Linked DNA regions of Homo sapiens: region 2 is linked to region 1. The links come from fine-mapping of genetic effects on gene expression. Tissue or cell type: whole blood. Region 1 holds a variant in brackets; the other region holds the start of a gene. All regions are shown on one strand. Distances are from middle to middle.

What was found. PIP is the estimated chance that this variant, and not a neighbour inherited with it, causes the effect.
Region 2: FASTKD1 starts here. The variant in region 1 is fine-mapped to the expression of FASTKD1 in whole blood (INTERVAL, PIP above 0.99).

The regions. Positions count from the first base shown.
Region 1 is chr2:169,530,192-169,532,954 of GRCh38, forward strand. It overlaps FASTKD1 (FAST kinase domains 1), which reads right to left. Exons shown (of 15, transcript NM_024622.6): 13 at 1,161-1,299; 14 at 396-510. Among named protein-coding and RNA genes, the nearest start is that of KLHL41, 22 kb to the left of the region's middle. The variant G/C (reference allele first, on the strand shown) is at 1,185.
Region 2 is chr2:169,572,534-169,575,033 of GRCh38, forward strand. It overlaps FASTKD1 (FAST kinase domains 1), which reads right to left and starts at 1,332. Exons shown (of 15, transcript NM_024622.6): 1 at 1,136-1,332. RefSeq lists enhancers at 914-1,083, 939-1,541, 1,444-1,543.

The DNA of each region.
Region 1 (2,763 bases):
TGTTTCCTCTGATAACTCTATCCATCTCTACAGTGCCTCTCTCCTTTGTAAGATATAGAAATCATAAGATATGGATATTCTAAAGACAATAAAATAAATGACAACTTTTATTTATTTATTTTTATGAGACAGGGTCTTGCTCTGTCACCCAGGCTGGAGTGCAGTGGGATGATCACGGCTCACTGCAGCCTCAATCTCCTAGGATCAAGCAATCCTCCCACCTCAGCCACCCAAGTAGCTACAGGCATGAGCTATTGTATCTGGCCTGTTTGAGTGATACATTTTAAAAAATATATTTAAAAAGGTAATTCTGGAACTTTCACATTAAAAGGAAGCACATGTACAGCTAGTGTCTCTGGGCTTTTTAGAGGCTGAATTACATGAGTATTTCATACCTGAATTACACGATACCCCAGAATTTCCAAATGTCGTTTTTTCATAGCAGATTTTCCTTTCATGTGAGGGATATTTCTACAAAGTGCTTTTGAATCCAAAAATTCCAAAGCAATCCTACATAAAATAAAAAAATATTTACTCCTAAAATCAGAATAAGAAACTGAATAATTACAAGCTTTTCAGAAACAAGATTGCATCTTTATAAACTAACAAAAGCCAATGAATATAAATGAGTATATCAAGTTATGTTTCTACTAAGAAATTAGTAATTGATGACAAACCTATTTAGTTACACAAAATTATTGTAAATATTTGTCTGCTTTCATCCATTTTTTTGGTCCAATATATATTTACACATGCCTACTACATGTAAACCACTGTGAGGGGTACAAATATGAAGCAACACAGCTTATAGTCTAACAGAGAACACATGATGTATAGTAAGTTACTGTAATGCAGTGTAGGAAGTGGCTAAGTGCTATGAGAAAAGTAGAGAGGTATGGGAGCGCAAAAGAAGATACTATTTTACTTCCAGTGGAGGACAATTCTTTTAGCACTTTAGTTAGGGAGATTGCTAGGCTTTGGACAGAAGAAGGGAGAACATTAAAGCAGAAAGGAGAGGAAAAGCAAAGTTACAAAGGTGGAATGCATGACATATGAGGAACAGATTCCACTACCTTCAATCCTTGATCACTGACTTCAGTATAGTACACCAAATTTAACATTTAGATATTAATACAATCTAAAACTAAGAAATAAATTACCTTTCAGCCCCTGGTGGCAGCCTT[G/C]ATCCAACTATTTCGATATTTGATTCCCAGGGCATTTCTGGTAGTTGTCCCAATGCTATATTATGGCTTCCATACGGAAGAGGTTTTTTTCTTTTATCCAAGATACACTCAAAATCTTAAGGAAGCATAGAAACTGGTAGTATGAATTAGGTAAAGTCTTACAGATAAAAGTTTAAGATATATTTGAAATATATATGCATATAATATTTGTACACACACACACTCACAAAAGAATGACGAACCTCTCAGATTATCCAAGTTATTTTTATAAGATCTGGTCCAATGGCACCTCTCTTTGGAAATCAATCAATAAAAAAATCAACCAGAAGAATTACAAAACAATATTAAGTACTAGGCTACATTTAGCGCTGGGCTAGGCCAAATCACATTAAAGAGTTTCAATCTCTTTAAGGCTCTTGATTACATTTGGAGAAAGCTAAACCAACTCATCTGAAAATTAATAAAGAAAAAGATACAAGCATTTATCCTGTCTTTTCTACATGAATTGTACATAAGAGTAACTAAACAGTTGATATGGGAAAGTCCTTTTTAGACAAATTCCAGCTAATAAATGTAGAAGGCATGATAGATGTAGAATATCGCTACTTTACCACCCCTCTGAATGATGGATTTAGGCAATGAGTGATCATTAATAACTGCTAAAATCAGCAGGTGAAAAGCTGACAGGGGAACTTTCTGTTGAATGAATCAGCTGACAACATACGAACCCACTGATGAGTCTTAATGTATAAAAGACAACCAGGCCAGGCACAGTGGCTCACACCTGTAATCCCAGCATTTTGGGAGGCCGAGGCAGGCAGATTGCTTGAGCTCAGGAGTTCCAGACCAGCCTGGGCAACATGGCAAAACCCAATCTCTACAAAAAACTTAAAAAATAAGCCAGGTGTAGTGGTAGCTACTCCGGCTGAGGAGGCTGAGGTGGGCGGATCCCTTGAACCTAGGAGGTCAAGGCTGCAGTAAGCCATGCTTGTGCCACTGCACCTCAGCCTAGGCAGCAGAGCCAGACAAAAAAAAAAAAAAGGAAAGAAAGAAAAAGAAAAAGACAACCAGCCTTGTGTGCCTCCTGAGAGGATGCAGAAAGAAGTACAAGCCACTTATGAAGTTTTTGGCCAAAAAGAAAAACCTAAAAAAAAAACCTAAAATCTAATCAAATCTCTAGATATCACTAATGGTTTACAGCAAACCCAGGTTTACAGTAAAAACATTAAAAACTATCAGATGACATTTTAAATGTTATCACAGGGCTGCAATTAGAAAAGTTCGAAATGTGGAAAAAAAAAACTTATTCTCAAATTTTAAGTTAAAAAAAGAAGTAGGAAAGGAAAAGTTGAACCAAAAACTGCAAACCAACCAAGTGGAATGTTAAGATCCCAATTTGGACAAACTATAAAATAAACATAAAAGACACTTAAAACAGGAAAAGCAAAGGTATAGGGGTGCAGTGCATGAGACGTATGAGGAATAGGTTCCACTGCCTTCAATCCTTCACCATTGAGTTCATTATAGTAGGCCAAATCTAACATTTCGATAAAATGTTAAATTTTATCTAAAATTTCCC
Region 2 (2,500 bases), 42 kb after region 1:
TACATACATATATATATACTTTTTTTTTTTAATTTTTCAGAAGTATGGTCTCAGGTTTATTTGCTTTCAGGATAATTTCTTGCCCCTTTTTCTTGTGCCCTTAAAGAGCTCAAATAATTCCTTTCTTTAGAAAATAAATAAATAAAAGAAGTCATATAATTTAATCATTACTGGCCTTGGATAGGTTTTAACCAATGAACGACACAATTAAAGCACCAATCAAGAAATACTAAGAAATTAAGTAATGTTTCAAGTCATGCTGAAACAATAAAAGAACTAAAGATAATTATGAAAAAAGAATAATTTGTTTTAAAAATATGCTATAAATGTTTACATTTATAATTGAGAAGTAATGGTTAGAAAAGCAGGGACTAAAGTCATATAATCTAATATTTCTGCAACATGTTACCATTTACAAAGAACGTTTGAAACACATTATCTCATTAAATTCTCTCAGCTAACCTTCCAGGTTGATATTATTTCCATTTTACAGATAAGGCAAAATAGGTTCAAAAAGGTTTAAAAAATCCTTCTAGTACTAGTGAAGCAGGGACTACAACTCAGTTCTTTCCACTTGAACAGCTTCATTACACAAACAAATCAACGCTGTATCACTAAATTCATGTCTCAGACCCCTCTCTACGGCTATGCCAAACAGTCTGTTCACAAGAAAAAACGACGCGACAGTACAGGCTATTTTGTGGCAAGCAGTACAGCATCCTGACCTAAGCTGACCTGGGTCACAAACCTGCACAAGAAAACCCTGCACAAATCAAAGGTATCCTCAAGATACTATATTCATCCACTGAGCTGCTCAAAGTGGAGGCAGCTCAATGGTTAGCATAGAAAGGTGTCGAGTCCCCAGCTTTGCCCCAGCTGAATGACCTTAAGGAAGGAACTTAACTACAGGAAGGGCCTTGGGACCCTAAGGGGTATCTTCTGCGCCGGGCATAAAGGAGAGCTAAACAAATGAGTGAATGAATGGGGTCTCAGCCCTGCCCTAGTCCATCCGCACTTCAGAGAACCCAATATCCCGAAGGAAGCCTCCGTATCTCAACTGAACCCTATGTCCCCAGCCCGAAAACGTGCTGGGTGGGAAAAGAAAAATAGCCGCTGCCACACAGTCCCGACTTGCCAGCAAGGTTTTCCCTCAGCGCGCCGCAAATTTTCTGGAGGATCCTGGGGTTATGAAAGCTCAGAAGTCAGGGTTATTCCTGGTCCCAACACGGAACGAAACAGGCTCGGATGTCTCGCCCAACCCTCATATCTCAGGGTTTATAACCTTTCTTCGAGAGACATGACCTTTCCCATGAGACCTTGCCCCCAAACCAGGAAAAAATGCCCGGCAGGCGCAGCGTGCACTGCGGAAGTCACGCACTACATATCCCAGGGTGGGTCGCGGCGAGGTGGGTGAAATGGACGTCGCTCACGCATTTTGGGGGAATTCTGGGCATTGTAGTTCCTCATTGAGGGAGGCTCTAGCGCAGTACACAGCTTAAGCTGTTGAAGAAGATATAGGTCGTTTAGGTGATTCTCTACTATCTAAGGTTGTTCTCCTAGTCCTTGGAAGTCTACTACTTTTATAATATACACAAAAATATACTTAGGAAAATGAAATTTAAAAATGTAAACATGGAAAAGACACGTACAGATTTTTCTTATTATTTTTTAGCATATACGAAATAACTCTGTCGAGTAACTTTGAAAGTATGCAAACTCATACTCTCAGTTTCTGCACTTATGTCGTGGATAGGTACCAGTTCTCAGACCATATTTTTTTTTTACTTACCATGGTATTTTAATAGTCCCAAGATTTGACACTTGACACTTAAAAAAAAAATACCACTAATAAATAACCAAAGTGGAATGCTTACCAAAGTTACAACAGACATAATTTTCAGCTGATAATCACTACAACAAAGTAAGGCTCTAAAGGTACCAAACTGATATTTGTTGGAATATGCTGTGCAACTTTCTTTTTTTTATTTTATTTATTTATTTTTTTTATTGATCATTCTTGGGTGTTTCTCGCAGAGGGGGATTTGGCAGGGTCGTAGGACAATAGTGGAGGGAAGGTCAGCAGATAAACAAGTGAACAAAGGTCTCTGGTTTTCCTAGGCAGAGGACCCTGCGGCCTTCTGCAGTGTTTGTGTCCCTGAGTACTTGAGATTAGGGAGTGGTGATGACTCTTAAGGAGCATGCTGCCTTCAACCATCTGTTTAACAAAGCACATCTTGCACCGCCCTTAATCCATTTAACCCTGAGTGGACACAGCACATGTTTCAGAGAGCACAGGGTTGGGGGTAAGGTCATAGATCAACAGGATAAGAATTTTTCTTAGTACAGAACAAAATGAAAAGTCTCCCATGTCTACTTCTTTCTACACAGACACAGCAACTTTCCGATTTCTCAATCTTTTCCCCACCTTTCCCCCTTTTCTATTCCATAAAACCGCCATTGTCATCATGGCCCGTTCTCAATGAGCTGTTGGGTACACCTC